Linked DNA regions of Homo sapiens. The protein of the gene in region 3 purifies or fractionates together with the protein of the main gene of each other region. This does not show direct contact. Each region holds a gene or a part of one and is shown on either strand. Other genes may lie near its edges.

What was found.
Region 1: the proteins of SMR3B (region 3) and PSG3 purify together in Homo sapiens (co-immunoprecipitation; one large-scale study listed by IntAct). This does not show direct contact.
Region 2: the proteins of SMR3B (region 3) and CRTAP purify together in Homo sapiens (affinity purification with mass spectrometry; one large-scale study listed by BioGRID and IntAct). This does not show direct contact.

What each region holds. Positions count from the first base shown.
Region 1 is NC_000019.10:42,726,908-42,730,562, reverse strand, and holds part of PSG3 (pregnancy-specific beta-1-glycoprotein 3 precursor), read left to right. Parts: intron 1-506; coding exon 507-785; intron 786-1,185; coding exon 1,186-1,440; intron 1,441-3,655.
Region 2 is NC_000003.12:33,144,969-33,148,383, forward strand, and holds the end of CRTAP (cartilage-associated protein isoform 1 precursor), read left to right. Parts: 3' UTR 1-2,805; downstream 2,806-3,415. UniProt on the Homo sapiens protein: Necessary for efficient 3-hydroxylation of fibrillar collagen prolyl residues.
Region 3 is NC_000004.12:70,381,817-70,385,947, forward strand, and holds the start of SMR3B (submaxillary gland androgen-regulated protein 3B precursor), read left to right. Parts: upstream 1-1,314; 5' UTR 1,315-1,396; intron 1,397-2,680; 5' UTR 2,681-2,694; coding exon 2,695-2,748; intron 2,749-4,131.

The DNA.
Region 1 (3,655 bases), on a different chromosome or scaffold from region 3:
CCAGTCCCAGGCCAGGCTGCTCAGTATCTTCAGGGTTTCAGGGCCATGGGAAGTCCCATTATTACTCATCTCTAGAATGTCCTTGGAAATGGAAGTTGCAGAGAAATCACATCTATGGGGGCAAAGTAGGATGGAATTTGGAAGGGGCCCACCAGTTGCACATTCCAGGTAAGGAACCCAGGGTGAGCCAGCCAGTCAACTGATTATGGAGGGACTGGGAGGGGTACCAGGGGCTGTGACTCCCATTGACGTGTCTGTCCATGACCCAACACTGCTGCTCAATTGACACTTGAGAAAGTCTGTGCTTCCCTAAGACAGAGCAGCTGGCCTCACAGTCTTTGAGCCCTTAGATCATCATGCATCTGTCTTGTGACACACGCACCAGCTATTGGCTTTCAAGGACTCGGGTGGGCTGAGAGGTGGGAGATGCCAACTCTGATTGAAGGATGCCAGTGGAGGAATCAAAGGTGCCACACAGGACAATCTTCTCTCTGTTATCCACACAGCGAAGCTGCCCAAGCCCTACATCACCATCAACAACTTAAACCCCAGGGAGAATAAGGATGTCTTAGCCTTCACCTGTGAACCTAAGAGTGAGAACTACACCTACATTTGGTGGCTAAATGGTCAGAGCCTCCCGGTCAGTCCCAGGGTAAAGCGACCCATTGAAAACAGGATCCTCATTCTACCCAGTGTCACGAGAAATGAAACAGGACCCTATCAATGTGAAATACAGGACCGATATGGTGGCATCCGCAGTTACCCAGTCACCCTGAATGTCCTCTGTGAGTATCTTTTGTTCCTCTGTGGGCCAGGACACCAGCTTAAATCAAAACGACCAGAGGCCAGGCCTCTCACTCTCTCTCTGGTCCAAGTATAGATACCATTACTTCTGGACATCCGAGCTGGCCATAACTTCCTGCCCTGGGAAGATCTGGGTAGGCACAGCCTTAACCAAGAATATAAGGGGAGGGGACGCTCTTGTCATGGGAGACTTGGGGCCCACAGCTTGTGATGGGAGAAACAGGGGAATACCTCAGGCTTCAGCTCAGTGAACATAGAGGGGGTTTGGCTGGCACTTGAGGGTGTGTCTTGGCTCAGAGGGTCACTGTGTCCCTTTAAGAGACCAGGAGCATCCCCTTCCCTCGGATGACATCACCTGTGGCTTTATTCTCTTTGCTCCAGATGGTCCAGACCTCCCCAGAATTTACCCTTCATTCACCTATTACCATTCAGGAGAAAACCTCTACTTGTCCTGCTTCGCGGACTCTAACCCACCAGCAGAATATTCTTGGACAATTAATGGGAAGTTTCAGCTATCAGGACAAAAGCTCTTTATCCCCCAGATTACTACAAAGCATAGCGGGCTCTATGCTTGCTCTGTTCGTAACTCAGCCACTGGCATGGAAAGCTCCAAATCCATGACAGTCAAAGTCTCTGGTAAGTGGATCCCAGCATGCTTGGCAATAGAGTTTTAGGTGGAGTCTCTCTGGCTTTCAGAGAAGAGTCAGGAAAACATTTTTATTCCCAGCCTGTGTCCCATGGGCACAAGCAAATCCCAAATTCTCCTCCTGAACCCTCCCAATTTGTCTCTACAGACTCTCTTCTCCTTGTTTTTCTGTTTTCTCATGGCTGACCTTGTGTCTGGCCTGAGAAAGGTACGGAGCGGGCTTTATCAGCCCTGAGCCCTATGTGGTAGAAGAGGATTCAGAGAGGGACAAGAAGGAGAGTCCTCAAGATCAAGTTGCTTCTTGCTGTCACCAACACATCCCCTTCTGCCACGTCTTTGTTTTCTTGTACCTATTCTATGAGCTACAAGGAACATCCGAGGCTTTGAAACAAGCTGACACTTTTCCCCCAGATGAGAGGAGGAAGCCCCTTGGGTGAGGGAGGAGCAGCTCAGACTCTGCTTCCTGCTCTGCTCCAGGCTCCTCTGGTGACTGGCCCTGCCTGACTCCACCTGGGTGGGACCAGCATCTGTGGAGAAAGAGCCCTGGTGGCCTGTCCTGAATTTGGCTAAATCGAGTTGCCAGTTGAAGCCAAGCCTCCCCCGGGCCAGGCTGCAGGGAAACAAAAAGAGAGGGAGCCTCAGGGCAGACTCCTGAGCTGTGTCCTGGCTCTGAAGTCACCGGCTGTATGAGGCTGTGGGCACAGCACCTGGGACACAGCACGGAGGACAGTGACTGATGCAGAGCTGGAGAAATAGGGAGATTCACCCCTAGGGCTCTGCATGGCAGGAAAGGGGCAGTGCCAAAAAGTGTGTAATTATAGAGAGGGTAAGACTACTGGACACTTTATATATATCTAATATAAGACTTACCATTAACTATTTCTAAGTGTGCAATTTAGTGTTGTGTAACCATCACACTATCCATTTCCAGAACTTTTTCCTCTTACCATATTAAACCTCTGTAGCCAATAAACAGTAACTCTCACTCCTTCTCCCCCTAAACCTTAGCACCCACCATTCTACTTTCTGTCTCTATGTAACTGGCTATTCTAACTATCTTTTATAAATGGAATTATATAATAATTATCCTTTTGTGTCTGGCTTATTTCAGTTAGCATAATATCTTCAAGGTTCATCCACTTTGCACTATGTATTGGAATTTTATTCCTTGTTAAGGTTGAACAACATTTCAATGTATAGATACACCTCATTTGCCTACCCACTTATCTTTCAATGGACTTTTCAGTTGTTTCCATTTTTTGGCTAGTGTGAGTAATGCTTCTCTGAACATCAGTTTACAAATATTTGTTCAAATTTCTTTCAATTCTATGGGGATTATGTCCAGAAGTGGAATTGCTGGATCAAATGGTAATTTATTGTTTAATTTTTTGAGAGAGAGCCACACCACTTCTTACAGTGGCTATAACATTTCCCATTCCCATCAGCAATGCACTAGAGCTCCAATTTTTCCATCTACTTGAAAACACCTGTTGTTTTGTGTTGCTGTCATTGTTGTTGTTTATCAAAACCATCCTAAAGTGTGTGAGGTGGTGTAACAATGTGGTTTTGATTTGCATATCTCCAAGTATTCCTGATGCTGAGGAACTTTGCATGGGCTTATTTGATATTTGTATATCTTCCTTGGAGAAAACTCCATTTTAATCCTTTGTTCATTTTTTAATTGGGTTTTTGGATGTTTGCTGTTGTTGACTTGTAGCTTTTCATGTATTCTGGAAATTAATTTCTTATCACACATATAATTTGCAAATATTTTTATCATTTCGTGGGTTGCTTTTTACTTTCTTGATAGTGTTCTTTGATATATAAAAGGTTTTGATTTTTATGAAGTCCGATTTATCCATTTTATTTGTTGCCTATGCTTTTGTTGTTACAACCAGGAAATCATTGTGAAATCCAGTATCATGAAGCTTTTCTTCTAAGAGTTGAATAGTTTTTGCCCTTACATTTAGATCTTTGATCTATTGTGGGTTACTTTTTGTACATGGTGTTAGGTAAAGGTTCCACTGTTCTTGCCCTTGGATATCCACCTTTCCCAATATCATTTGGTGAGAAAACGGTCCCTTCCCCATTGAACGATCTTGGCACACTCGATGAAAATCATTTGGCCATATATGCAAGCATTTCTTTCTGGGTTATTATATTTCATTAATTTCTATGTCCTCCTTTATGCCAGTACCACAGTGT
Region 2 (3,415 bases), on a different chromosome or scaffold from region 3:
AGCGTTTGGGAAACAAGACTTTTCCTGCAATAGCCTGGGAAGGAATAAAAGGATAGAGTGTTTGGGTTTTTGTGTAATGGTGGTTAATTGGGGTGGAACACTCACACGTTGTGCTTTTTCTGGGCTTCCCTTATCCCCCAGAACACTCTACCAACCTCGGGGAACTCGGGCACATCCTTCTGTTTCTCCTTCAGCTCTATCCTGCTTTCCTCATCCCTTCTGACACCACGTCCTCACTCACCTGCACAAGAATCCCTGCATCAGGTTCTCCTTTGAGGGTACCCACCCAGGACAGTCCCCTACCACTTCTGTCTTGGGCTGAAGTTGCCCACGTCCACAAAATCTGTACTCCCAGCGGGGGTGTTTGGCCCGAGGAGTCAGTGTTATTACTGGTGGATGCACCGTGTCCACAGCAGCCCCCAATCCCAGCGATGCGTCAGATCTTACGTGGCTTCCTGCTGGGGGAGATGGCCTTCACCCACGGGATGCCGGGTTCTCCTTTCTTTCCTCACCCCAACCTTTACTCCACCAGAGAAACTTCCTTTTGAACTCAGTGGGGAAGAGGGTGATGAGACAGGACTAGAAAGTAGTGGGGGACCCAGCGAGTGGACGCCCTGCTCCGGGATTCCTGAGTCTGTAAATAGTGTGCCCAGCAGCTGTGAACTCCCCTTATAGCCTCAGGCTGCAGTGTCCTTCCCAGCTGTGTGAGAAAATGAAAGCCGACGTCCACAGGGACCCAGGCAGGGTTGGGTGTTGTGACTCACTCCACCTCTGTGCCCTGCAGAGGTACTGTTGGGTCCTTGTCTTGTGAGCCTGGGGTGAGCTCTCTGTACATGTTGTTGTTCCACGTATGGGTTGACTTGGCATGCTGGGGGGTCCTCGTTCACTCTCTGAAGTTGGCCTCCTTTCACTGGGGATTGAAAAGCACCTCCACCCCTACCCTAGTGATGTCCCCTGAGGACCCGGGTGATAGTACAGTCAATATTGTCAGTACTTTGCTTTGATTGAAGGCTGTAGAGCTGAGTTACCAAAATTTCTATTTCAAAGGAAACCAAACCTTAAAAAAAAAAAACAAAAACTGGGCTGGGTCTTCCAAACCTACCATGAAACCCTGGTGTGCAGGCTGCACTCAATGACCTCAACCCAACACCTCCCTGAGTGTGCTTCTTGGAAGAGCCTAGAAGATTCCTGGATGGAGACCCCATTGGTTCAGCCTCAAGTCTGGCCCGTCTTCGAAAAAACAAACACATTTGTAAGCTTTGTGGGAGCTTCCAGGCCTGCTCTAAGATGCCTTGCTTGTCCTTTGACCCATCAGCATGGAGCTCAGTGGTTGCTGTTTGGTTCTGCAGGCTGGTGGGGAGGCCGCCCATCGTGGTGGGGCATCTGTCCAGCCCCATTGCCACTCAGGGCATCCAAACAGGAGGCACCCGCTGGGAAGGGTCTAAAGATACTCCTTGTGGCCACTGCTACTGTTCACACTTGACTTGTGGAGAAGCGAAGGGCTGAGGGGAGGTTTGTGTACACCCATGTATTTAAAAGTGACTGACTGACTGAAATGAGCACATACCGACATATGCAACATACTAATACCTTCCTGATTTTCGAGACTTTCTAATTACTACAACTAACCTGTTGTGCTCACCTCTGGAATTCAGAAAGAGAGCCACTGCGAGCACTGACCACAAGGGCTGCCTTAGGAAGGAAATGTGTGCTTTCAGGAGTTCTTATTAGGGGAATTTTAAGAGCACAAAAATTTTATTGAACCCACCTTAGTGACAAACAGAAAATGATTTGTTAGATTGTCAGTTGGAAGGGGTTTATTATGACTGCTGGTGAAATAAACAGTGACCAGTTTCTGCCAACATTTATGGAAATAACGTTTCTAGGTTTTAAATGTGAGCCGTAAACTGAAGCTACTTCAGTTAAAAAAAAAAAAATCAATACTTAAACTGTAGGGAAAAGGTGGATTGGTGCCAGAGAAAACATTATTTAATAGTGTCAGAACATGGAACTGCAACACAGTTTGTAGCAAGGCACTGAGAAAAACCCACAACTAATCCTTCATCGCAGCTGTCTGAACTCTTGATCATCTGCCATCCCCCAAACAGTGACTTCTTTTTTTCTGGTGACTCCAGGCCTGAATGACCTAGTGTGGAGAGTTTAAACTATGTACAAGGGAGGAAAGAAAAAAAGGAAAGGAACCTTAAGTAAGCCTCAGCCAAAGGTTTTATGCATTGGACTTCCTGTGCCTGCCCCCAGGGGCAAGACTGATCCCCATGCCTGTGCCCATGACATCTCCCTGAAAGAGGACACCATGACAGCCCGGCTTTGCCTTGACTGACCCACTGCTACCCCAGAAATAAGAATCAAGAGCAGCTATTGTTATCCTTAGAGTGTTTTCCGTCTAGGGCCGGCTCGTGAACAGCCACATATCCTTGCACCTGACACTGTCCCCACACAAATAGCTGGCTTTCGTTGCTTGTTGAATGAATGAGTGAGTTGGCTCTATATCCCCTTGGAGCTGGCCGGTAAGATATTAGTGCCTCATTTTACAAGAAGAGAATAGGAAGGAATTAAGCAATTTGGCCAACAGATACAAGATAGATTCCAGAGTTTTATCTCCCACTTTAGGGTGGCAGCCAGTAGGCCAAACTCCAAAGACCGTTGCTGATGTCTTTTTCTGCCTCCCCTCTTTGGGTTAGTGTGGTATGTACAAGCTCACTCTTGTTGAAAATTAGAAAATAGTTGAAAACAAAAGGTTTTTGTTTTTCTTTTTAAATCACATTAAATGTTTTACATTGCTTATTCTCTATTTTCTATTCTATCCACTGGACAGGGATGTCTTCACCACATTCTAGAAGCTATGTTGTAATGAGCTCTGTTTTCTCAGGTCTGTGAAATTTCTGACATTCATCTAACAAAGTAGAAACTTCAAGCCAGGGACTCCTGGATCTCATGCAAGAGGAGTGGTCCTTGCTCTCCATGAGCCAAGAGCTGGCTGAGGTCCTGTCAGGCAGTAGAGGCTCATGCCTCTCCCCCGGAAGATTGTCTTTCAGAGGAGATCTGGAATCCCACTAGGAAAAACATTTGGAATCTGTTTCAAACAGGGACACAAAGCATCTTCAGGCATGACTGTCAACAGCAACTATGCTCCATGCATGCCACTAAAGGGCAGGCAGGAGAAAGAAGAGTAGAAGGAAGCAGGTGGAAAGAGTGAGGAACCAGCCAGCACAAAAAGAAGTCCACGTTATGGAGAGTTGAAACAGCTGTCTGAAGAAGAGGTGGAGGACATGGAGGTCAGCCCAAGAATTCCAGAGGTTATGGTGAAAAAATCTGGACTGAGGAGAGGAGGTGTAGGGAGTAAGAGTTGAGTGTTGATGGATGTCTTAGGTCAGGATCCTTTGAAGCAAGGGAA
Region 3 (4,131 bases):
AGTTAGCATCTATGTCATCTATGTGTACAACAGAGATAACAATAGAACTCATTTTATCCTGCCACGTGGAATATGCTAAAGGTTTAATAAGTAATAGCTGTTATTATTAAATAATAATGTGTCAAAACTACAGATTATAGGATCATCTAGCTTAGGAAAAATTATGCTCAAAGCCTAGATTTATCAAAAAAACAAGGCTGTAATTTTCCATTAGACATCCACTTCAAAGTCAAGATATCCGTATAATTTTGCCATAATCAAAAATTTTGCTTGTCATTATATTTTTATTTAATTAAATGTCTCAAGTTAATAATGGCAAGGACCACATGATTTTTAAAACACAGTTGTTCTCATTTAGTTCTTCACTGGCAAAAGGAACTTCCTAAAAAATGCATATATAAGGTCTTGTAAATAGTCTACTAACTTAAGATAATCACAAAGAAATGAAATATAGTTAAGACTGAGAAACTGCATGAACCTTCTGACTATTATCCCTCTTCCACCACTAGATTTTTCTTTCCTGCTTTTTTGAAACTTAGATCCAAATCTTAATAGCAGCACTCATTTTCATCATCCTTCAGAAACATCTACTCAATGAAGACAACTGTGAAAAACCATACATAGGATAAGATATATACAAACTTTCAAGCACAAAACAATAATACAATTTCATTATTTCAACCAAAAAATAGAAACATGAAACCCACAACATATAGCAAAGTGATCAAAACAGTCAAGTGAAATTTTAGATATTCTTTACATTACTGGCCATGCATCGTACCTGCGTGCATGTGTGTGTGTGTGGTATTTAGCAATATTTATTTAATTAGGCACTTTTAATTTTAATTATCATTTTTGTTCCCCTAGGTTCTCCTGATCATGTTAGAATTCAGTTTAAAAATATTTGTATTTCGCACATATGGAGGCCTTTGAAATAAAATAGAAAATATGATGAGACTAGCAAATAACAAAAGATGGCCCATTAAATCACTTGGAACAGAAAAAACTCGTGCCAGCTTTTCCTTTGAAATAAAGAGGAAATGGTGCACCACAGGCCCCAGATTGTTTTTCTGAGGTGATAGGATATTATGATTTGTTGTATCTGTTTCCTCAGGAAACAGCAAATGTTGAACAGGTCAATGCTTTTCAGGAATGAAAAAAAATCCAGAAAAAGACTGCCAAATTGGCAAGAACAACTTTCCTATCTTTGAAGAGCATCAACTCGGAAGTTATTTTATTTCCGAATAGCCTTTCTCTTATTGCCAACAGAAATCCATTACAATATATAAGAGCTAAGATTTCTTGTCCCTTTTCACCTTTATTTGCCGTCTTTCAACTGGCAAGAGTCATTTTGACCAGCAGATTAATCAACTGTAAGACAGATCCTCACACAAAGGTAGGTACTTGGAAATATAAACTGAATATTTTTACTTTGAATATTGAAATTTTTCTCAAAGATAACATTTTCAACGATAACATTTTATGGGCTTTTCATAGAACATTCATTATCAGCAAAAACATAAGTAGCTTACATGAAATTGTAAGTCATTAAATGCAATAAATTTTGAAAAATTCTGGTTTTTACAGGTCAGAGTAAAACATTCATGTTGGGCATTTGGGCCAATCGGTCCATCCAAGTACACAATTGACTTTTCCTCCTGATGTACCTTAAAGTTCTTGAAACTTCATAAGGATAGAATAGTCTCAGGTGTACTCTAAAAGACAGAATTGCTCTACAGAATATTTTTATTATTGGTTTTTCTTTTGTTTTTCAAACTTAATTTAAGAATGGATATAGGAAAAGTACTAGTTAAAGGAATAGCCACACCCACATATATATAATTGAATATCCAGTGAAATTTTGTCCATAGGATTCTTTCAAGACTTGCATTGCTCAGACCACACACTCAACCTATGTGCAGAGTTGACTAACAGGAAGCCAATTTGCACCATGGTGTATGGAGTTGCTTTCCCAAAAATCAAGCTATCATGTACTTGAAATATATTGTAAAATTTGACCCAATTGAGAGTAGAATACCTGGACATCTCCATGTTCTTGCCTTGGTCTCTGATATATGGATTTTTGGAAGCACTTTGAGACCACTCATCACAGCCTAAATTAATGTAATAGAATGTTGTTAAAACTAGGAAATATATTATGTGACTCTTCTTTTAGACTATATCCAACAGGGTGATTCCTTTTTTTTTTCCTTATTTTTAAGCTCTTCCAAGCAATAAAATTTGTAACATAAGATCTAGTTAAAATGTTAATATCTCAAACCCATCCATAGAAATCTATAATGTATCTACTATTTTTAAAATATCAAAATGTTCAAATGAAAATAAGTATACATTTTAAAGTAGTTACTTCTAAGGGAAAAACCTTAGTCATAAAAGCTTCTATTGCTCAGAGCAATGTATGAACAACTCTTTGGCATTATCCCCAGGATCAGTTTACAAGTCAAAAATAAAAACTACTTCCACTATTTTGAAGTCAAATTTTATAAGCCTACTAATATTGCCCCACAGTAATACTGAATTCAAAATAACATTAGGCAAATTCCCTAAAAATGCTATAGTAGGATATTTGTATTACATTATATCCAAGTGTTGAGACATTTTAAATAGTACTTTTTAATAAAAAACAATCATACTGATCACCTATTGTGCTTACTTTCAGAGGCAACTGAAAGGATGAAATCACTGACTTGGATCTTGGGCCTTTGGGCTCTTGCAGCGTGTTTCACAGTAAGTATCATTAATCACGATCACACTTCTTTATAGTTTCTCATTAACCATTACTTCAGATTTCTTTTTACATTAATGATGTTACCTTTTCTTATATATTAGTAACTATTAATCATCAATGAAACACTGTTTAGGGCTTAAATTTAAATTTAAAATCTAATTTAAATAACCACACATGTCTGATGGCTGCCATACTGGACAGCTCAAGTCTGTGGTATCAGACTGCATTAAACAGATACGTATAAATGTTAAGTTCCCATACTCTAGTCAGTTACACAGTAGGTAAAACTCTATAAAAATAGATAATCAAAATAAAACCGTTTTCCCAGCATGTAGTTTATGGATCATTTACACCAGAGTCACCTAACTCACTTATTAAAAATATAGTAAAGACCTCATCCAAGCTTCAATAAGAGTATCAGATAATGGGACCTGGAAAGATGCATTTTACTAAGGATCTACAAGTATCTTTGCATGCTAAATTTTGGGAGAATGCTAAGCATTTATATATAAACAGCTACTTTGTATACAAAACCAGGTTAAAGACAAATGAGATACTAAATATCATACAAAATTACAAAAATGTTTTTAAAACACACGTATTTCAAAGTAGTAGAATCATACTCGATTTCAAAGTAGTGTTAGATTAATTCCAGTGACAGAAAGAGAATATTAATTCCAGAGTAATTTCCACCAAAGTACTATAAAATCTATATCAAATTGAAAAATATGAAAGCTGTTTTTTTTAGATTATGACTTCCACAAATCAAGCAACATAAATTTACATCATTCTGAAACATGAAACATAAAATAATTCCTTTTTCATCTACTTTGTTTTTTTTTTTTTTTTTTTTTTTGAAACAGACTCTCGCTCTGTCGCCCAGGCTGGAGTACAGTGGCGCGATCTCGGCTCACTGCAAGCTCCGCCTCCCGGGTTCGCGCCATTCTCCTGCCTCAGCCTCCGGTGTAGCTGGGACTACAGGCGCCCGCCACCACGGCCGGCTAATTTTTTTGTATTTTTAGTAGAGACGGGGTTTCACCGTGTTAGCCAGGATGGTCTCGATCTCCTGACCTCGTGATCCGCCAGCCTCGGCCTCCCAAAGTGCTGGGATTACAGGCGTGAGCCACCGTGCCCGGCCTCATCTACTTTCAAAAAGGAACAAAATCAGGAAATTCTAAGGTTACTGAGGTAGTCTGACCTTGGCTAAATTACTGAGAGCATTATATGTTGACATAATTTTTAATAAACCAATAAAATATATTGATATATTTTAAAGGTAATATCTTAATGGCTTGATTATAAAGCTTATTTTCAATATTTTTATTCCCTCAGAATACAAAAGAAAAACATTTATAATTTCAAAGTATCAGGCTTTTATTATA